5 separate regions of the Homo sapiens genome follow, and regions 1, 2, 4 and 5 are each linked to region 3. Evidence: fine-mapped expression QTL. A gene starts in region 3. Each other region holds a variant in brackets. All regions are shown on one strand. Distances are between the middles of the regions. Region 1 overlaps BAIAP2 (BAR/IMD domain containing adaptor protein 2). Region 2 overlaps LOC124904077 (translation initiation factor IF-2-like). Region 3 holds the start of BAIAP2 (BAR/IMD domain containing adaptor protein 2). Region 4 overlaps CHMP6 (charged multivesicular body protein 6). Region 5 overlaps BAIAP2 (BAR/IMD domain containing adaptor protein 2).

What was found. PIP is the estimated chance that this variant, and not a neighbour inherited with it, causes the effect.
Region 1: its variant is the best candidate, but not a certain one, in a credible set for the expression of BAIAP2 in whole blood (TOPMed, PIP 0.76).
Region 2: its variant is the best candidate, but not a certain one, in a credible set for the expression of BAIAP2 in whole blood (TOPMed, PIP 0.74).
Region 4: its variant is the best candidate, but not a certain one, in a credible set for the expression of BAIAP2 in blood mononuclear cells (TOPMed, PIP 0.58).
Region 5: its variant is the best candidate, but not a certain one, in a credible set for the expression of BAIAP2 in nasal epithelium (TOPMed, PIP 0.75).

What each region holds. Positions count from the first base shown.
Region 1 is chr17:81,112,118-81,116,117 of GRCh38, reverse strand. It overlaps BAIAP2 (BAR/IMD domain containing adaptor protein 2), which reads right to left. Exons shown (of 14, transcript NM_001144888.2): 14 at 1-348. The coding sequence ends at 279. Among named protein-coding and RNA genes, the nearest start is that of MIR657, 11 kb to the left of the region's middle. RefSeq lists enhancers at 2,566-3,307, 3,322-3,821, 3,822-4,000. The variant C/G (reference allele first, on the strand shown) is at 2,381.
Region 2 is chr17:81,004,981-81,009,798 of GRCh38, reverse strand. LOC124904077 (translation initiation factor IF-2-like) reads right to left here. Exons shown (of 1, transcript XM_047437254.1): 1 at 1-4,818. Among named protein-coding and RNA genes, the nearest start is that of CHMP6, 16 kb to the right of the region's middle. The variant C/G (reference allele first, on the strand shown) is at 1,912.
Region 3 is chr17:81,032,783-81,036,932 of GRCh38, reverse strand. BAIAP2 (BAR/IMD domain containing adaptor protein 2) reads right to left here and starts at 1,782. Exons shown (of 14, transcript NM_001144888.2): 1 at 1,625-1,782. The coding sequence starts at 1,678. BAIAP2-DT (BAIAP2 divergent transcript) reads left to right here and starts at 2,214. Exons shown (of 2, transcript NR_026857.1): 1 at 2,214-2,368; 2 at 3,535-4,150. RefSeq lists an enhancer at 970-1,965 and a silencer at 1,837-2,146.
Region 4 is chr17:80,995,513-81,000,231 of GRCh38, reverse strand. CHMP6 (charged multivesicular body protein 6) reads right to left here. Exons shown (of 8, transcript NM_024591.5): 4 at 4,474-4,560; 5 at 3,160-3,225; 6 at 2,891-2,971; 7 at 1,812-1,866; 8 at 99-1,134. The coding sequence ends at 1,079. Among named protein-coding and RNA genes, the nearest start is that of CHMP6, 6.0 kb to the right of the region's middle. The variant G/A (reference allele first, on the strand shown) is at 2,496.
Region 5 is chr17:81,070,999-81,074,998 of GRCh38, reverse strand. All of the region lies in intron 3 of BAIAP2 (BAR/IMD domain containing adaptor protein 2), which reads right to left. Among named protein-coding and RNA genes, the nearest start is that of BAIAP2, 38 kb to the right of the region's middle. The variant T/C (reference allele first, on the strand shown) is at 1,521.

The DNA.
Region 1 (4,000 bases), 79 kb before region 3:
TCCATGGCCATGTGACCAGAGGCGTGTACCCTCAAGAGGCGGCCCCTCAGCCCTGGGCAGCCCAGCCACTGGGTCTCGCCCTTCAGGGGCCTGCGCCCCACTCTGCCCGGCCCTGCCTAGAACAGCTGGGATCCAGTCCAGGCCAGACTCAAGTGGGGCAAGACCAGGCAGCCGGGGCCTGGATGTTCTCTACACAGGAACGCACAGATGATGACAGAACAGGCTACATGGGAAGGGCGGGGGAAGCCACCAGATGGGCAGCACTGCAGATGTGGCCATCAGCTGAGGAGGGGGGCAGACCTGTCGTTGGTCACTGTCGGCTTCAGCTGGACGTGGGCAAAGGGATTCCTGAAAGAGAAAAACGTGGTTTTAATTTTTAGGGCGGAAGCCATGGGTGAATTGTGCCACCTGGGCTGCCCGATGCCCCAGGGATTCCCCAGTGCTGGATGCCTACGGTCCGATCTCAGGGCACAGAGCTCACAGACAATATACGCTGCTTTGCGGGGCAGGGAGGACCAGGCGCTGTCTGCAAGGCTGCCTGACCCCCAAGTCCACTATGTGCCCTAGACAAGGCAGGGTGCCCCCACCCCGATCCATCACCCTCCCAGCAGTGTGGGCTGGGCAGGGCAGGGCGGGGTGGGGCGGGGCAGGCCAGCCACAACCTCCCAGTGAGGGGCGGACATCACCACTGAGGCTGGGGATTCAAGACAGGCCTGAACCGGGCACACACCAGTTTGGTGGCTCCCCCACCAGGCCAGGCCCACACCCAGGGACACAGCGTGGCAGAGCGTCCAGCCCAGCCCTGGCATGGGGGCATCCAGAGAAGGCAGGTTAGGCTCACGGCTCCCGCAGGGCTGCAGATGGACACCCATGGGCCCTGCAGAGCAGCTGGCCATCCCCTGGGCCAGACAGTGGTTCACCTGCTGTGGGCTCAGCCACCTGTCCCCCGAGGGGTGCCGCGCCCTCCCCCATATCCCCGGGGCCACAGCTGATGCACAAATACGACTCAAGACAAGAAGTTGAAATGGAACAAGATGAGCACGGATGAGAGGGATGCCTGAGCCTTTCTCTTTGGAGTCCCCACCCCCGGAGGGGACAGCACAGGACAGGATGGGGGATGTCAGGCAGCTCCAAGGGTGACAGCACAGATGGCACGTGGACATGAAGACGCAGCAGGGACGGGACTGTGCTCTGGCAAAGCTGTGCTTGGACTCTGGAGCCATTACCTGGAGCAGAATCACCTCTGGCACAGCTGGGTCCACAAGAGCCCGGGCAGCCGGGAACAACCCTGGGGACGGGCAGGCAGACTCCGTCCAGCTACCCGGGAAGAGGCACAGGCAGCCGGAAGCAAACCCTGGGGTGGGCAGGCAGGGTTCCGTCCAGCTGCCCAGGAAGAGGCACAGGGCAGAGGCAGCTCCCTAAGCTTTCCTGAGGACTTTGTGTTTTCTAAGAACTTGAAACACTACAGACTGAGTTTTTAAGAGAATAAAGTACGTGGAAGAGACTGACAGGTCTGCGGAAGGCTCCCAGACTCCCAGATGGCGTCTAAGCATTGGCACCCTGCTGAAAGGATCTTTTGATCTACTCTCAACGTGCTGGAGCCTCAGGGTCTGCTGGATCCCCGGCTTTTTTCAGCTTTGATCGGTGCAGCTTTGCCCTTCCTGGGGCCTGGGTAGGGGCTGCCTAGGGGCCCGCTGGTGAGGATTCCACCTCCATCACTGATGTCTGCCCATGCCCTGTCTGCCTGCCAGGCTAGACCCACTCCTAAGGAAGTGCTCTGTGGCCCGAGTTCCTCCGCAGGCCCAGGGTCCGGAGGGAGCTCTGGGGAGATTAGAAATGGGGCTGGCTGGGCATAGTGGCTCCTGCCTAGAATCCCAGCACTCTGAGAGGCCAAAGCAGGAGGAACCACTTGAGCCCTGGAGTTCAAGACCAGCCTGGGCAGCAAAGCGTACCCGTCTCTACAAAAAAAAAAAAAAAAAAATTAGGCAGGTGCGGGAGAGTGGTGCATGCCTGTGGTCCCAGCTCCATGGGGGGCTGAAGTGGGAGGATCGCTTGAACCCAGGAGGGCGAGGCAGTAGTGAGCTGTGTTCCCACCACTGCACTCCAGCCTGGGTGACAGAGTAAGACCCTGTCTCAAAAAAAAAAAAAAAAAAAAAAAAGTGGGTTCCCAGAGAAGGGTCCTAGATCTGGCCCAGACCACAGCCGAGGGCAGTGCAGCCGCGTGGTTCTCACTCCTGCCCCGAATCACAGCCGATTCTCATCAGAAAGTCAGTGGCAAAGGCACATCGCTTGCCTGGACCCCACGGGGAGCTGCAGGGGTAGGAAGCCCTCCACTGGTGCAGGCCTGTTCTCTAACCTGCATTTTTCTCTTCTTGTCTCC[C/G]AGAACAGTGGGACCAGGTGGAGCGTGCTGAACCATCCACACTGGGTGGCTCTGAGGACCCTGGGGCTGGGGCTGCAAATGCTGTGTCCAATCTCAGCCTGACGGGGGCAGGGGGGTCGGCGGGGATGGGGAGAGCGCAGGCCAGAGCCCAAGGCTGGCTGGGACAGCAGGCCCACAAGGAGGGGCTGGGCGTCCCTATTTCCCCACCCTGGCCCCCACCCCCCAGCTGTCTGGGAAAGACGCGCCCAGGAGGCCGGCGGGGAGCTCGCTGTGCTGAGTGGGGGCCTAACTGAGCCAATAGAATATGACAAAGTCTGCAGCCCAAGGCCACTGCAAGGTCACCACACGTTAGCCACAGACATTGGTCCCTGCCGGAGGACACGTGCCAGGCCCCACCTCCTGCAGGACATGGCCCTGGGCAGCGATTGCCACGAACTACCCAATGACACCACCAGCACCTCTCCAGCCAGCAAAGGAAAGTCACCAGACGTGTCCAAGAGCGGAGGACCCTGAGGAGGGCCTGCGTCATGTGTGGGGGAGCTGTTGGGCGGGCAGGGCGCTGGCCTCAGAATGCAGAGGCCTGGGCTCTGTCTCCTCACAGAGAGCCTCCCCTCAGAGGCCCCTAAGCAAGGCCGCAGGGGAGACCGGTGGCTTTTCTAATTTTTAAATTGTATTATTATTTTGAGACAGGGTCTTGCTCTGTCTTCCGGGCTGGAATGCAGTGGTGCAATTGTAGCTCACTGCAACCTCCACCTCTGGGCTCAAGCAATCCTCCCACCTCAGCCTCCTGAGAAGCTGGGACTACAGACGCGTGCCACCATGCCTGGCTAATTTTTAACTTTTTTTTTTGTCAAGATGGGGGTCTCCCTAGGTTGCCCAGGCTGATCTCGAACCCCTGGGCTCAAGAGATCCTCTCGCCTCAGCCTCCCTAAGTGCTGGGATTACAGGTGTGGGCCACGGCGCTCGGCCAAGCGGCAGCTTCACCAATGACTTGAATGTGAAGCAGAAGGATTCCGAGAAGAAACGGAGCCGTCACAAATGCATTTCGACCAGTTGGGTGACTCCAGACCCAGAGCCGGGCGGACAGCACCTGTTTTCTGTCTTCTCGCGTCAGCTGTTTCTTCGTGTCTTCAGAAGGTGGGCCCTTCTGGAATCGGGTCCAGCGTGGGCGCTTGGGCCTCCGCTGACGAGTATGGACAGCGGCCAGGGACGCTCGCCCCTCCACTCTCATTCCAAGGCCCCCTTCCCAGGGCCCAAAGCTGGGGCATGACAGGGTGGCAATGGGATTGGGGAGTCTCTTGGCCAACTGCAAGTGGCTTTCGACACCCCCAATCCCAGCTGAGTTGTCAGACCAGGCAGACTGCGTGGCCGGGAAACTGGCCCCTGGCACTGTGGAGTGGTGCTGGGGCTGAGCACCACTGCCCCACCGGCACTGCTACCCAGGGTCTCTGCCCTCCAAGGGACGTGGTCCCTGACAGAGGCTGTGCCAGCCTCATCTTTGAGCCTTCACCCCTTCCAAGCCTCACCAGGTAAGGGCAGTTCAGCCCCCTCAGCTCAGAGGGACCTGGGGGAGTGGGGGGGTCTGGAGGCCTCCCAGAAACAGCGTCTCGGAAGGGAGGA
Region 2 (4,818 bases), 27 kb after region 3:
GGACATTTTGACGGTTATGCTGGGTGGACTCCGCAACAATCCGCTGGAGAATGTTGATTTTTTTTTTTTTTAAATGCCCATCAACCTGGTTAGTTCCAACCACAAAGTTCTGCTGCCTCTGCTCCAGTCGAGGTTCCACTTTCAAAGCCAATTCCTGTTGCTTCTCTGAGTGCACCCCACACAGGTGCAGCTCGGGTGGGGGAGCCGGGGCTGCTGCTGGTTCCTCCTCAGAGTCCCAAGGCCTCTTTCTCCCACTCGCTCCCTTCTGGGATTCCCCCACCACACGCTTTCTGGACCTCAGTGGCCCCTGTTCACAATTTCTCTTGCCAAAAGGACAAGGTTTCTATGGGAGTTTTAGCTTTCCGTGTTTCTGTGCAGTTCCGTAACTGAGGCCCATCCTGGGGCAAAGCTACGAGAGAAAAGGGAAGATAAAACCAGGAAACGGCTTCCCCACAGGGGCCACCTCCACAGCTTTGGTTTACTGGTTTACTTTGCAGAGTCCTCAGTGGCAGGGCGGTGGTGGCGGGGGCGGGGGGTGCTTTGTTTTTCCTGGATTTGAGTTGTTAGTTGTAACAGTGAAAGAGATGGGCTGGCTGGCCGGGAGTGGTGGCTCATGCCTGTACTCCCAGCACTTTGCGAGGCCGAGACGGGCGGATCATCCGAGGTCAGGAGTTTGAGAGCAGCCTGGCCAACATGGTGAAATCCCGTCTCTACTAAAAATACAAAAATTAGCCAGGTGTGGTGGCACACGCCTGTAATCCCAGCTATCCGGGAGGCTGAGGCAGGAGAATCGCTTGAATCCAGGAGGCAGAGGTTGCAGTGAGCCGAGATCAAGCCACTGCACTCCAGCCTGGGCAACAGAGCGAGACTCCGTCTCAAAAAAATAAAAATAAAATAAAGAAAGAAAGAGATGGGCTGTGGAGGGCTGATGCTACCATCAAGGTATGGACCCTTTGTAGGTAACTTTAAAATGGAGGAAAGATAATCTGGAGATGCTGCAGTTAATCCAAAACAATGGATTTTAAATATTCCTATTTTGCTTGAGGGTCCAGCTTTATCCATTATGTGTTAAAGTTCCCTTCCTGGACCAGGCGCAGTCGCTCACACCTGTAATCCCAGCACTTTGGGAGGCCAAGGTGGGCAGATTGCTTGAGCCTAGGAGTTTGAGACCAGCCTGGGCAACAGAGCAAGACCCCCGCCTCTGCTAAAAACACAAAAGTTAGCTGCGTGTGGTGGCGCATGCCTGTAATCCCAGCTACTTGGGAGGCTGAGGCAGGAGAATCGCTTGAACCCAGGAGGCGGAGGTTACAGTGAGCTGAGATTGGGCCATTGCACTCCAGCCTGGGTGACAGAGTGAGGCTCCGTCTCAAAAAAAAGAGGGCAGACCAAGCAACAGAGACACATACCAAAGACACACCCACGATGGCTTCATCCATGGGAGACGATTGAAAGGCTGGCGTCGCAGCCACGTGAGACATTCCAAGGCAGGTCAGATGAACAGCCCTAGAGCCTGTCTGGAGGAGAGCAGGCGTCTCCTGCGGGACATCATCCTCGAGATAAGGAAGGGTCCTGTTCCTCTTGTATAAATGGAGGTTTTTCTCATGAGTGTCCTTAAATCTACCACTAAACTCAGGTTAAATGCTCTTAGTCTGGAATTAATGTACAGAAACTGGGATGGATATGTTTTCATATTATTTATGAAAAAAATGTTTCTCAAGTAAATGGAACAAGCAGGAATACAGGTGGGAATGCCACAGTACTAGACTACACTGTGCTTCAGAACAGTTTTTCTTTTTTTGAGACAGGGTCTTGCTCTGTCTCCCAGGCTGGAGTGCAGTGGCACGATCATGGCTTACTGCAGCCTCCGTTTTCTGGGCTGAAATGATCCTCCCACCTCAACCTCCCAAGTAG[C/G]TAGGACTATAGGCATGCACCACCATGCCTCCCGGGTTCACGCCATTCTTCTGCCTCAGCCTCCCGAGTAGCTGGGACTACAGGTGCCCGCCACCACGCCCGGCTAATTTTTGTATTTTTAGTAGAGACGGGGTTTCACCTTGTTAGCCAGGATGGTCTCGATCTCCTGACCTCGTGATCCTCCCGCCTCGGCCTCCCAAAGTGCTGGGATTACAGGTGTTAGCCACCGCGCCCAGCCTAAGATACCCACTTCTAATCAACATTGTACTGAAGCTTTAACCAGGCACTTAGAGAAGGAAATGAAATTAAAGGCATCCAGGTTGGAAATTAAGAGGTAAACTATCTCTCTTTACAAGTGACCTCATCTTGTATATAAAAAGTCCTAAGGATTTCACTTAAAAAAACCCTAATAAACAAGTTCAGCAACATTGCAGGAGACAAGCTCAATATACAAAATCAGCTGTATTTCTGTATATTTAAGTGAATAATCTGAAATTGAAATTAAGAAGATTTCATTTACAATAGCACCAAAAATAAAACAGTAATAGGCTGAACAAAACAAGTATAAAATTTATACTCTGAAAACTACAAAACTTGGTTGAAAGAAAGTAAAGAAGACCAAAATAAATGGAAAGGCACCCTCAATCCACGGATCTGGACTTAATGTAGCGGAGACGGCGGCACTCTCCAAACACATCCACAGATTCTACGCAACTCCTATCAACATCTCACTTGGCTCCTCCGCAGAAACTGAAAAGCTTATCCTAAAAATTCACATGGAAATTTGAGGGTCCCAGAATAGCCAAAACAATCTTGAAAAAGAAGAACAAAGTTGGAGAACTCACACTTCCCAATTTCAAAGCTTACTACAAGGCTGCCATGAGGACGTAAGAATAGACACACAGAGCAATGGGACAGAACTGAGGGCTGGAAAGAAGCTCCTGGCTACAGGCAGCGGGTTTCCACACGGTGCCAAAACAATTACACGGAGAAAGGACTGTCTTTTTAACAAATGACGCTGGGACAGAAAAATACCCACATATAAAAGGAAGAAGTCAAGCCGGGCGCGGTGGCTCACGGCTGCAATCCCAGCACTTTGGGAGGCTGAGCCAGGCAGATCACCTGAGGTCAGGAGTTCAAGACCAGCCTCGCCAACAGAGTGAGACCCTGTCTCAAAAACATATTTATATAAATATAAATAAACTATAAAACTGTTAAGAAATCATAGACACAAATCTTCATGATCTTGGATTAAGCAGGGGTTCCTTAGCTATGACACCAAAAGCACAAGGAACAACAACAAAAATAAATTAGATTTCATCAAAATTAAAAACTTTTGTGCTTCAAGGGACACCATCAAAAAGGTTAACAAGACATCCCAAAGAATGGGTGAAAATATTTGCAAATCATGTGTCTAATAAGGGTCTAGTATCCCGAATAAAGTATTACAACTCAATAAAAAGACAACGAACCCAATTAAAAATAGGCAAATTATCTGAATAGACATTTCTCTAAGATATACAAATGGTCAGTAACACCCACGAAAAAATGCTCAACACCATTAGACACCAGAGAAATGCAGGTCAAAGCCACAATGACGTACCACCTCATGCCTGCTAGAGTGGCTGTAATCAAAAAGAATATAAGAGTTGGTGAGGCTGTAGAGAGACCAGAACCATCGGCCACTGTGCAAAAGAGTGTGGTCGTTCATCCTATGGGTGAACATCCAGTTACCACACAACCCAGCAATTCCACTCCCAGGTGCAGACCCAAGAGCAGACGCTGTCCACACAGAAACCTGTATAGGAATGTGTTTGTTTTTAAAATTTGTTTATTTTTGTTTTATTTCTTTATATGAGACGGAGTCTTGCTCTGTTGCCAGGCTGGAGTGCAGTGGCGCAATCTCGGCTCACTGCAACCTCTGCCTCATGGGTTCAAGCGATTCTCCTGCCTCAGCCTCCAGAGTAGCTGGGACTACAGGTGTACACCACCACGCCTGGCTGATTTTTGTTTTTTTTTGAGTCTTTTTTTTTTTTTTTTTTTGAGACAGAGTCTTGCTCTGTCACCCAGGCTGCAAGTGCAATGGCATGATCTCGGCTCACTGCAACCTCTGCCTCCCAGGTTCAAGCGATTCTCCTGCCTCAGCCTCCCGAGTAGCTGGGACTACAGGCATGCGCCACCACGCCTGGCTAATTTTGTATTTTTAGTAGAAACGGGGTTTCTCCATGCTGGTCAGGCTGGTCTCAAACTCCTGATCTCAGGTAATCCACCCGCCTCGGCCTCCCAAAGTGCTAGGATTACAGACGTGAGCCACCTCAGCCGACCTTGTTATTTATTGTTTTTTGTTTGTTTTTTTTTTTTTTTTGGAGACAGAGTCTCGCACTGTCACCAGGGCTGCAGTCTGGAGTGCAGTGGCACGATCTCGGCTCACTGCAACCTCTGCCTCCGCCTCCCGGATTCAAGCCATTCTCTTGGCTCAGCCTCCCTAGTAGCTGGGATTACAGGCGCCCGCCACCATGCCCAGCTAATTTTTGTATTTTTAGTAGAGACGGGGTTTCACCATGTTGGCCAGGCTGGCCTCGAAATCCTGACCTCGTGATTCGCCTGCCTCGGCCTCCCAAAGTGTTGGGATTACGGGCGTGAGCCACCGCGCCCAGCCCCGTTTTTTTTTTTAAAAGACAGAGTCTTGCTCTGTCGCCCAGGATGGAGTCCAGTGGCATGATCAACTCTGCAGCCTCAAACTCCTGAGCTCGAGTGATCCTCCTGCCTCAGCCTCCTGAGCAGCTGGGATTATAGGCGCCCGCAACCACGCCAGGCTCACACACACACACACACACACACACACACACACACACACAATCAACAAACAACAAAAACAAAACAACCCCCTGGTCCATACAATAGCAC
Region 3 (4,150 bases):
TGCTTTCTGGTTTCAGCGCAGAAGGAGAAAAAATAGGAAAAAGGTTCCGCTGGTACTTCTCTTCCACCCTCTGCAATCACAAACAAGTCGTAATGGAGCTAATGACTAATAATTTAATAAACCTCCCTCCCTTGACAACATGTGCTTCCACAGAGCAACAAGGCCAGAACCGTATGCCACAGACTCTGTGAAACCAAACCTAACAACCCCAGGGCCTGTGCCTTTCCCAAGCCGACTCCTCAGGTCACCCTGAATCCTGTTTCCCAGTGGCTCCGACGTGGCTTTAGGACTCATCTAGTCGACCGCACACCCGCCTTCAGAAACCTTCCAGACTGACGCGGCCCCAACTTCACAAGCTTTATTGAAAGCTGTATTCAAGTGCAATCGGCCCCCTGCACTCCAGCTGGAACCAGAGGGGCCACCCCTGAAGCCTCCATCTGGCTCTCCCAAGCCTGAGAGCTAAGAGGGCTTCCCAGGCCCCTGGCCAGGCACGCCTTGGCCGCCTACCACAATCAGAAACAGTTACTCTGCCGGGCAGGGTGCAAGCCGGTTAGGAAACATGAACCAGCGACTGCCGGGTAAATACCCACTCCACTCATCGCCCAGCCTGTCACTGAACCTGCAGACAGTTTTGAAACAAAGCACATCTGTAAGAGATCGCCCAGGACCCAGGGACACCCAGAGCAGGGGTTTCTCCTCTGAGAAAATGCTCCCCGGCAGCTGCCGGGCTCAGGCGTGGGGGTCTGGACCGAGAACGGATGCTGAAGAAAGAGAAAACCAAGGGCCTGTTTGTCGGTATCCCAGCCACAAAAACGACTGGGGAGGGGGCGGCAGGGGAGGCTTCCAGCGGTGCTCTGCGGCCCTTGGATGTGAACCTGTCATTTCGCAGACGAGAACGTGGATGCCACTCTTAACACATCTGAAGCAAAGGCAGGCACGTCAGCCTCCTACACAATTAGTCTTCTCTCTCCGCGGTTACATAAGATGATAGATTATCCGTCCACCCATCCAGCCTGCCCGCGCTCCGACCTCCCACCTTAGGCCCCAGCATGGGCGCCGGGCAGGAGTTGTGGGAAGGGAAAGCCTGTTGAGAATGAAGTGCCCGAGGCTCGCGCAACCGCGCCTGGAGGAGCCCCACGGTGCCACCGCGCCGACCGCGGCCTTCAGACAGCCCCCATGCCGTCCTGGCCGCCGCAACCCCTGGGCCCGCCGCCCCCGCCGCCCCGGCCCTGCCCGGGTGTGCTACGACCCCGACCGGTCCGAGGGCTTCCGGGGCCCGGCGCGCGGCTCCGTTCCCGCCGACGCCAAGGCGAGCGCGCGGGGGCCGAGCAGGGCCGTCGGAGCGGGGAGTGCTCCCCGGGCCTGGGGCTGGGGACTGACCGGGCCGCGGCGCGCATGGGATGGGGGGGCCCGGGCGGGGGTGGCCACCTGTGAGCGGCCGGCGCCGGGCTCACCACCCCAGCAGCCCGGGTCCCGGGTGGCCGCGCCGGGAAGACCCCCAAAGTCCCAGCCTCCTGGCCCGGCGCGCGGCCCCGGGGCCGCCCTGGTCGGGCTCGGGCGCGCGGGCGGCGCGCGACCCAGGCGCACACGGAGCGGGCTCAGCTCGGCGCCGGGGGGCGCTCACCTTATAGACATTTTCCGTGAGCCGGTGCATCTCCTCTGAGCGAGACAGAGACATGGTCCTGGGTCCCGGCTGCACCACAGACCGGAGCGGGGGACGCAAGCGGCGGCAGCAGCGGCGGTAACGGCAGCAGGACGGAGACGAAAGCGGACCCGAACCACAGAGCCCGGCGTCCGGCGGCGGCCACCTTTATAGCCGCCTCAGGCCCCGCCCCGCGGCAGTCCCCGCCCCTGCGTCCCGCCCCCGTTGCGCCCGCATCACCGCCCCCGACCACCCGCCCCCGCCCGGCGCTGCCGCTGCTAGGCAACCGCCAGGCCCCGCCCCCGCACCGCCCTTTCCATTGGTGGGTTCCGGAGAAGGGGGAGGGGGGCGGGATCGGAGGTGGGGCCTAGTGGCCGACTCCAGGCAGCGATTGGTCTGCGGCGGCGTCGATCCTGGGGGAGGAGAGGGGAGGCGCGGCGCGGGCTGGGGCCCTGGGAGCAGCCTGAGGGGGCCCGGGCAACAGCCGGGCTGGGGGCGGGGAGGCGGGGGCGGGGTGGCGCAGGAAGAAGGAGCAGAAGGTGCGGGGAGGAGAGCGGGGGGCGCCGGCGGCAGCGCGCGTGGAGGCGGCACTTCGCGAAGTGGCACTTCGGGGCGGGCGGCCCGCCGGGTCGCGGCCTGGCGCTGCGGGGCGGGGAGCGGCTCGGACGCAGGACGCCGCGGGCCGGGCTTACAGGTGGGAGAGGCCCCGACCCCGCCGCTTCGCAGGTAAGCCCGCCGGGCGGGCGGCGACCCCCCGGCCGGCCCCTCGGGGCAGAGAGGAGAACCCTGGGGGAGGGGGTGCTGCAGGAGGACCCTGGAGAGAGCTCGGCCCTGGAGTGGGGGACGACTTGGAGAAGGAGGATTTCGGGGGAGCATCGTGAGGAGAGGACTTGGAGGGAGGATCCTGCAGAAGGTGAACTCTGGGGAGGACCCCAGACAGGCAGACAGCGCTTGGGGGCTTGGGGCCGGGATTCTGGAGAGGGGAGGACCCTGGGAGAGGAGGGTTGGGGAAGAGGATCTTGGAGGAGGGCCCTGGGAAGGAGGATCTGGAGAGGGGACAGGGGAGTGTCCTGCTGGAAGGCCTGGGGACAGGGCGACCCTTAGGGACGGGGAGGACCCTCCTGCCGTCAGAAGATTCTCGTTGGAGGCAGTTTACTGAGAGAGAGAGGTCTCGGGAAGGAAGGGTCGAGGGCAGTAGGAAACGAGGGGCCCGGAGGACTCTCATGCGGTGGAAAGCCCTAGGGGGTGGGGGAACCTTGTAGGAGGAATGGAGGAGTCAGAGCTGCCTCCAATTTTTAGGAAGGGTCCTGCTTAAGGGTCCTCCCAAGGGGAGATTCTGCCGGGGAAGCTGGCCGAGTTGGCACACAGGTCTCCCGGTACAATTCCCGTGGAGAAATATTTACATAAATTAGGCTAACATAGAGGAATTATTTGTTTTACGTTGTGAAACACCAGATCTGAGCGTTTCCGTTTAATGAAACCTCTCAGTCTCCCAGCCTCCCATCCCTGCAAAATCATTCATTCATTCATTCCTTCAACGAGTCAGGCCCCTGGGGGAGACGCAGTTGTGCTGGCTGGCCGGCAGATCCCCAGACTGGCACGGGCTCAGGCCGATGGAAAGACCAGGGAAGTAAGATTCAGGAAGCATTGCCTCCCTCCCACCACAGCCCCGCGCCTCCTCTCCTCCGGCTGAATTTCCTTCCAGCTACTGGCCCTGGCTGCTTCCTTTTTCTTTATTGTCTCCAGTGTTTGGGGGTAGATCCCTGTGTATTTATTTTCTAGGATTCTTTTGGTGGTAAATGACAGAAAGCTCGCTCAAACTGGCCCTAACAAATGAGGGCATTTACCTGAAGGTAGGAGCATCTCCACTGACCCTGACCCCCTTCTTCTAGGCCAGCTTCCTGCTGTGTTCCCTGCACCCACCGATCTCACACGCAGCCCTAGGACAGACGTCCACTGGCCTGAGTTGGGTCTGGGGCCAACACGGAGCAGGTGGGGGTAGAGCAGCTCTGCTCGCCTGGAGGAAAGTTGAATGGCTGGAACCAAGATGACAGATGGAGGCTGGCAGGCAAACACGGGAGGCCTCCTCACTCCAAGAGGGGAGTCAGCCTGGGGACAGTTCTTCTCCAGGCCCTGCTGCTCCCATCAGCTGCAACACAGGAGAGGTAGGCTTCTCCGGAAAAGCTCCCACGGTCCTGGATCCCGCTCCACCTTCTAGAAGCTCCCAGCGTTACTTCCTGAGCTGGCCTGCACATCGTTGCGCTACTCCCGTCCAAGGGGGGACATATTCGGTGACCGACTCAGAACGCAGCCTGCTTCCCGGGTGGCCAGTGGCTCAGCAGTCTCGGTGCCTGAGCCTGCTCCCTCCGCCCGGCGGCTGGGCAGGTGGCTGAATGCGGGCTGGAGGCCTTCCCTGAGAAGACGGTTATCCATGCTGTACATGGAAGTGACCAGCTCGGCACCTGAGGAGACACACCGCGGCCGATGACAGGCGCAGAGCAGGACGTG
Region 4 (4,719 bases), 37 kb after region 3:
TCAGGGTCACCGTGGGGGAGGGGCCGCACACAACCCACCCACGCTCCCACAGAGGGAGCCACGCCTAGGTGCCCACTGCGCCCAAGTCCACGAGGCAGTGGGCGTGCAGGGCCAACTTTAATACGGGCCGGCCTGTCTGGGGGTCGAGGTGGCCGCTCCCTTTGTCCTTGTGGCTTTCCACGGGCAGGGGCGGTCCCAGCGAGATCGTCTCATAACCAAACCAGCCCTGTGCACGAGAAGTCACGCCATGCCCCACAGCCTCCAGTCCTGGCTGCTGGTGGCTCGGGGACCCGCAGGGCAGGAGGGTCCCGGGTCTCGCAGTTCCATGAGCCCCAGCCGCGGGGACCCCCATGGACAAACTTCCGGGGCTGCACCTGCCGGAGCAGCGTCTCCCAAGCATCGGAGGTCCTTTCTCAGCAGGGCTGAGCCCTAGTGGACAGAGCCGTGAGTGGCAAGGCGGGAGTCAGGGCTCTCGGAGTCGTCAATTCAGCAAGAAAGCCCCTGGCCCGCCACCTTCAAACTGGAGGTGGGTGTCTAGGGTGCGGAGGCAGAGGCACAGAGAGGTTCAGCACATGCTGGTCTCCTGGGGATCCCCCCACCAGCAGGGAAGCTGAGGTGCGCCGGGAAGCCAGGCCAAGGGAGGGACCCCTTAACGGAAGCCTGCACCAGCTAATGGGAGCAGCGAGGAGCAAGAGGAAGCGCGGGGACCCCAAGGTCTGGAGGTGTCTTCCTCACAGACGAGCGCGAGCCACGCGGGGCTGGGACTGCAGGGGAACAGCACCAGAGGCGTTGGGCCTGGGCCTCGGCCACCGGGGGAGCCCACAACCGGCAGAAGCTGGGCTCGGTCGAGAGTTAATCCGGACTGAGAGCAGGCCAGTGGCGCCTGAGTGCGTTCAGGCTCAAGGTCTCCAGGAGACGCTCTGGAGTCCTCCTGCAATGCGCCTGCGTGGCTGCAGCTCTGCTCAGCACCGTGCGCACTGGGCTCCAGGGAACCCGGTCAGGGGCTGGCCGTGACCCAAACTCTCTGTGGGCCACAGTCCCTGGGGCATCCCCGTGAGTCCCACAAGACGAGGCCACGTTACGAAGCTGCCACCAGCTCCGCCTGCCTGGGCCTGGCCTTGACAGGGACGTTTTCTGTGGAGGAAACAGAGATGTTTATGACACGCCAAAGACCCACAGGCAGAGACCTCCAGAGAGGGACGAGGCCACAGGGGTGGCAAGGGCCAGTTCCGGGGACTTCGCACTAGGGAAGGGCACGCCCAGCTCTGGGGGAGGCAAGTGACAAACAGGAAGCCAATGGGGCTGACAGACAGGGCCAGGGACACGGGACAGTGGGCCAGGAAAGCACAGCCCCTCCCAGCGGGACTCAGAGAGGAGAAGAGCCCCAAAGATGGGTAAAGGAACAGAACAAACGTGGATGGACGGTTCTAAAGTCAGCTTCCCAGTGGGCAGGTTGGAGAGCCTGTGCTGAATGGTGCCACGGGGAGAGCCATCCCTGGCTGAGGGCTAATCCTGGGCTACACCCTGGGAATGAGCTGGTGCTGCTAAAGAAGCCTTTCCCCAGTTCTGATTTCTGAATGTGTCTCTTTGAATGGGGTATGGCTCTCTTATGAGGTTGCCCAGTTACCGAACCCCTGGGAAACCCAAGCCCAACCCCAAGGCCAGGCACGCACGCCCCCAAGCCAAACAGCCAGGCAGCAGGGCTTGCCCACGGCCCAGGAAGGCCTGGGAGCATTCTGTCTTGTTCCCTTCTAGAATCCACTTTTCTCCTGCGAATTCCAACCATTCAAAAGAATCAAACATGGAAATACCTGGGATCTTCTCAGGAAGGGGCTCGGAGGGAACCTCTGGCAGCTCTATTTGTTCCTGCAAGAAGCAAAGGGTAAGGCTATGAGCAGGTGACAGGTCTGCCCCGGGCTGCCTGGGCCTCCCCGAGAGGACACGGATCCTGTCCGTCAGCCGCTCTCAGCCGGAGTTAAAGCGGACAGGAACGTGCTGCTCAGAAGACCCAAGTCTGCAACCGCCCCGGCTTCTGGTGCCACCAGAATCCCCTAGGTGGTGACGCAGCCGCTACCATGGAGGCTCCTCCCAACAGACCCTGGGGCGCTGAGGGGCTGTAAGGAGGCGACGTCCTGGGTGTGCCCCAGAGACCCTGGCTCTCAGGGACCGAGGGGTGGGTGACACAGACACCCAGGTCACGCTGGTGTCCACCACTGCGGGGTGGGCTGCGGTACAACGCTGTCCCAGCGAGCTTGGCTGCCTAAGCCAGCACGGGTGCTTCTGCCTCTCAGCTGGCCTTCCCTGGAGGCCCCGGAGGACTCGGACCCTCAGGAGAAAGTAACTGGACAAGCAAGTGGGTGCAGGCACCATGGGCCGCACAGCACCAGGGCGCCGGGGCAGCTGGCAGCAGGGCTGGGGCAGAGGCCGGCTCTGGGGGCACCATGAGAATTTGGCGGACTGAGGCAGGGGCCCACAGAGAGGACAACCCCTGTGTC[G/A]GGGAGTGAATACAGACTCAGAGCCTGGATGTGAGCCTGGGGCCAGGACGCGGCCCCCGCAGCGAGGGCCTATGTGGGACGTGAGTCAGCAGCCACGGCTGGGGAAAGCCAGCACCACATCCGTGACAGCCGGGGACAGAAAGGGGCCGAGGCGCCAGGAAGGCCCAGCACCCCCGCTCTGTCCAGGGCACGGGGCCAGCCTGCCTGCACCAGACCGTTGGGTGAGCAACCCTGAAAACAGAGTCACCTCAGGTAGGAAAACCAGTCACAAACCGCAGACTATTTACTTAAAGGACACCACATACGAGATCACCATGGGCAGGGCCTCCTGGGGGTCTGAGCTCTGGGGGTCCCGCTGCCTGAGTGACTGTGCTCAGTCCCGGGGGGGCCGTTACCTGAGTGATTGCGCTCAGCTCCTCCAGGATGGCGTCTTCATCCTCCTGAGTGAAGCTTCCTGCCAGGAGCTCGTCTATTTGCTGCAAAAGGACAGGCGGTGGTGAGAGCAGCGAGGAGGTGGCCCCTCAGGGAGGAAGGAGATGGCCTGTGGCTGGGTCTCGTCCCCTTGAGAGAAGGCGGCCGCTCTAGGATGTGGGACAGTTTGGCCCTCGAGGGTGGCCTTGTGGGTTCTCACAGTTGGGGGCAGGCCGGTCAGGGTGCCACCTACCCGCTGGTACTCCACGGCCTCCTGCGTCTCGTCCAGGATCCTCTCCACCTCTTCAATGGACATCACCTGTGGACGAGGGTGATGGGTGTTGACCCCTGTCGCGAGGCCAATGGTAGACCCCCGACAGAGGCCTCCTGGGCTCTCAGGGCCATGGCCTCACCCCTCTGTTTATTTTTATTTATTTTTAAAGACAAGGTCTGGCTGTGTTGCCCAGGCTGGGCTCAAGCGATCCGTCCAAGTAGCTGGGACTACAGGTGCATGCCACCACACCCAGCTCCTGTCCCTGTTTAAATGAGGCCAGGACATGTGTGTCCCAGGCATGGGCCTGTCCTGAGGCCACAGGGGCCGTTTGATGAGTCTTTTCAGAGGCCACGACTGCACTGCCCTGGCGCCCGATGCCCCCTCTCACCCTGAGTCAGCTCTCACAGCCGCCAGTAAAAACAAGCAACAGGTAGAACATTCTGGGCAGGTGACTTGATTTCTTTTGAGTGGCAAAAGGTCAAAGGGCCACTTGTGCTTGACCGGCACACACCACCAGTACTCACCAAACACTTGGAAAAGTAGCACAGCCAGACCTCCCGCCAGGTGAGTCCCTGGCTCTCCAACTAGCCCCACCTACTGGCCCCCATGTCAGGAGTGTGATGGGGTTGGTGGGGGAACGTGGTATGGCCACGCTGGGCTTCACATCCATGCCCGGCCTGAGATGAGGCCGGTATTCACCTCCTCCAGGAAGCCTTCTTTTTTTTTTTTCCTGAGACGGAGTTTTGCTCTTATCATCCAGGCTGGAGTGCAGTGGCGCAATCTCATCTCACTGCAACCTCTGCCTCCCGGTTCAAGAGATTCTCCTGCCTCAGCCTCTTGAGTAGCTGGGTTTACAGGTGCCTGCCACCACGCCTGGCTCATTTTTGTATTATTAGTAGAGACAGGGTTTCACCATGTTGGCCAGGCTGGTCTCGAACTCCTGACCTCAGGTGATCTGCCTGCCTTGGCCTCCAAAAGTGATTACAGGTGTGAGCCACCACACCCGCCACCTCCAGGAAGCCTTCTGTGATTAGTTTGCCAGCCCCCTCCCCACCCTCAGACTTCCCTTCTATGTCACTTCGGCGCCTGGGGACCCAGTTCCCACAGTTCCCAGCCTGTGCTGCACCCGGTCACTGCATCCCTGCCTGCCTGGCAGCACCCAACACATCTCCCCTGCCAGCCTCTTGCCCTGTGTCTGACACGAACACCGTGGGACAAGCCCCCCGCCCTATCCCCAGCTCCAGCCCAATGGGCTCCCCACACCTCCATGCCCCTGGCCCTGCAGAGACTCACCTGGTGCATCTTGTTCAGACACTCATTTCCAAACTGCAGCCCCTCCATCACTTTCATTTCGATCTGGGTGAACTCAATACTCTGAACCTGAAAAGGAAACCAGAGCAGACGCAGGTGCTGAGGATCCGGGGTGCCCTCCTCCCGGCCCTGGGGCAGGGTTCAGGATGACACCCTTGCTGGGCGGGTGCTGCTGGGCGTGAGGGTGACTCCTGACACCTGCTCCTCCCTGTCCTCTCCCACTGCCAG
Region 5 (4,000 bases), 38 kb before region 3:
TTCTTCCCTGTGGTTTAGAAAACAGAACTACATTATTCTCTTCCCAGCCCAACCTTTCCAACCTGGAGAGAAGTTGCAGGGATAGCAGAGCAAACACCCATTCACTTCGCCGAGGTTCCCTGGCGGTGTGCTTTGCCACAATCGCTTCACCACTCTTTCTGTGATGTATAGGTACACCCACATGCACTCACACGCATCCGTACATGCACACAGACACACAGGCACTTATGCATCCGTGCACACACACAGGCACTCACACGCATCTGTGCACGCACACAGACGCACAGACACGCATCCGTGCATGCACACACACAGGCACTCATACGCATCCGTGCACGCAGACACAGAGGCACTCAACGCATCCGTGCACGCACACAGGCACTCACGCATCCGTGCACGCACACACAGGCACTCACACATCCATGCACGCACACGAACAGGCACTCACACATCTGTGCACGTGCACACACACAGGCAACTCGTACGCATCCATGCACGCACAGACACAGGCATTCACATGTATCCGTGCATGCACACACACTGGCACTCACATGTATTTGTGCATACACACACGTACTCACACGCATCCATGCACGCACACCAGCACTCACGTATCCGTGCACGCACACACAGTGACACATGTACCAGTGCACGCACACTCACACGTATCCGTGCATGCACACACACCGGCACTCACACGTATCCATGCATGCACACAGACACACAGGCACTTTTTTCAGCCCCTTGAGACTCAACTGCAGACATCAGACAATGTGATGCTGCCCCTGCCCCCAATACTGCAGCTGTGTCCTAAGAGCAAGGACCTTCTCTGCCTCATCACGCCTCCATTGTGACACACAGGAAGGTTACCACAGACGCATCCTCCTCTCATCAACAGCACACACCATGCTCCTGAATGGCCCGACGATGCCATTGACAAGCTCCTCCCTGATCCAGGTTCTCATCAAGGGTCCCGCTGTGTTGCGTTGGCACGTGGCTTTAGTCTCTCTCATTTTAGGAAAACAAATCAGCATTCCACCTATTGGAAGACTGCTCCATAAGCACTTGAGACAAATAAGTGATACACGGGCTTAACCGTGAGCGACAAGGAACTGGCGCCTGCCAGCTCCCAGAGGACTCTCACCCTTCCTCTGGGGCGCTGGGCATCTTTAGTCCTTTAACCTAGAAGAGCCCCTCACACTTCGGCTTTCACAACAGTGACATTTTAAAGATTTGTGCCTTTTTTTACTCCAGAAAATACAACGTGTTCTTATAGTCTGCGAGTGACAAGAACCTGAGAGAGAGCGTGAATCTCAGAGACAGTGAAAAAGACTGGGGGAGGGAAGAGCCTGGGCCTCGGATGCTCTCAGCCCAGGGTTGGAGGCAGATCTGTGCAGATCGTCGTCCTCATCTGCGAGGGCAAACAGCAGCTCAGACCCTGCCCGAGGGTCCCCAAATGCTTGACTCCGAATCCCAAATGGAGCATAAACAGCATTTCATGATGATTTCAGTTAACACTC[T/C]GCTTAGTCAGTTAAAAGATCATTTCTACCAAAGCACGGCCCGAGACCAGCTTGGTGACTGCTCCCAGGAAGAAGGCTGGCGGCCCTGGCTGAGCCCAGGGTGAGGGGAGCAGCACAGCCTCCACCTCCCCACCCCGGCCTGGTACTCCTACAAACCAAGAGGTCCGAGTATCTGAAAGGCACCCCAGGTGGTAAAAGTTCTGAACTCCTGGGTAACCAAGAGACTGCACAGGAAGCTGGGACCACAGTGGTGGGGAAGGTCCGAGAAGGAGGCTTCGATCTCTGAGGAGCAGGGGTGCTGAGCCCTGGCATGGGGAGGGGCCGCTGGAGGGTCATGGGGACAGAAGGCCCCACGCCACCTACGAAGAGAGCTTCAACCCACTGGGGCCACCAGGGCCCCAGAGCAGGTACCCTCCACCTGCTACCTGTCTGCTGGCTGGGGGTCATCCTGGAGGTGACAGGCACCCAATACCCAGGGCTGTGGGAAGGGGCTCCAGGCCAGATGCCATTTTCTCATCAGGGAAGCGTGCATGTTTGTACCCGGCACCCGGGATTAAATCAGTAAGATGCAGGCTCATGACCACAGACAATGAGGTCCGTGAGGCCCACGGGACAGCCCGGCCCCAGAGCAAGGACTGGGGGTGTGTTCACCTGCTCAGCAGACAGCCCCACTCTGACACCAATGGCCCCTTCTCATACACCCACCTCCAAGCAGAGGACGCTGGGCGAAGAGGTCAGGAAAAATGAAAGAAAGGCAGAGCCTGCCAGACAGCGTCCGCCCGCCTGTGCTCAGAGTGGGAGGCGTGGCCTCTGGGCGCAGGTGTCTGCAAAGGTTGAAGACCCCACGGACTTGGGTCAGCACCTGCCAGAGCTCTCCCAGGAGGGTTAGCCTCCTTCTCGGACAGGGGCCAGGAATTCAGGAAATGCCAGGTTCGGGTGGGGACGTGGAGACGGCTGTGAGGCTGTGGCCCAAGTGGGGCCTGGAGCAGATCGTCTGCTCTTGGCACCAAGGTGAAACTGACGAGTGTGGGCGTCAAACAGGGCAGGAGAGTTTTCCACTGGACCCTGAGAAGTGCTCAGGTGGCCACAAGGCATGGACATAGGGACACTGAGGAGAGCCCCTCCTGTTCCCTGATTACATGGGTCAGGCCGGGCTGCGCAGGAGGAGGTGAAGGAGCAGGAAGCCGGAGGGAATCAAGGAACATTGTTGTGGACTGAGGTGGGGCCTGCGCAGGTCTCCCAACGCTGCCCTGGGGCACTCCAGCCATCTGGGAAAAGGGAGTGGCAGCCCTTGGGCAGGTGGAATGCAGATGGCCCAGCCCACCCTCCCCAAGCTTCTGAGGGCTGGAGCCAGCCGGGGAGGGCACGGCACCCACAGCCCGCAGGGAACCCCAGCCCTACGTGGGCGCTCGAAGGAGGAGCAACAGGACCAACACAACCACGATGATGGCCCAAGAGACTGGGAAGGCCGGGGAGGCCGGAAGCAGAGGGGGAGGGGGGGATGATCACGGACGAGAGGAGAGGCAGCAAGGAAATGGAACAAGATGCCCCAGACTCTGCAGAGGCATAGACCTGCATGCTCCGGCGCCTCCGTGCCACGCTGGAGGAGGGGACCGGCCACCCACAAGGCCCTACTTGGCGTGGGAACTGCTCCAATTCTCGGCTGCCTCCTGGACAGAGCTCGGATGGCAGAATGTGAGCCACAGCAGCTCGTGGCGGTGCGGGATGGTGCGGAGAAGGCATCCGACCCCCGCGCTGAGTCTGCCGGGAGCTGGACGTGAGTCCCTCAAACAGAGGCTCAGGGACGGACGGGCGCTGCTACCGAGTGGTCAGGGTGCTCTTTTTGGCCAGTGGACACTGAGGGCACAGAAACACTCGTTTCCTGGATATTTCTGTTGCTTCCGGAGGCACTGGAACTCTTCTCCTTTCTCTGCTGGTGGAAGAGGGGCTCTGTGCGAGAGGTCAGCTGCTCCAAGCTGGCTGTGAGCATGCATCACCTTCCAGAGCCTTCTGAAGTAGCTATCCACAACTCTCAATTATCCTGGTGGCTTCCAGAGCCCAAAGGCACCTCGAGAGCTCATCACCACCCACCTGGGCAGGGCTCGAACAGAGCGCCCTCATCACGGGGAAGGACAGATGGCCAGGGGGCTGACAGGACATCTTGCTATCAGAGCCCCCACAGGGGCCAGGGGACCAGATCCAGTGCTGACCCAAAGCCCAAGGACGCCACCTCGGGGGTGACTCCCAATCCCGCCCCTTCTCTCTGCTGCCCTCCAGCCACCAGCTTCTCCTTGGGAGAAGCAGAGTTCTTCTCCCACCTACAAAAAAGGCAAAAATGGAATGTGGCCAGCGGGTAACCAATGGGGGAAAAAAAAAAAATCAATGTCTGTGTTGCCATGGTGATGACGGTAGCTGACGCTGCTTCCCCACACACAGTTCTGAAACCAAGCAAGTCCAAAGAGCCACCTTGGTGTCAAGGC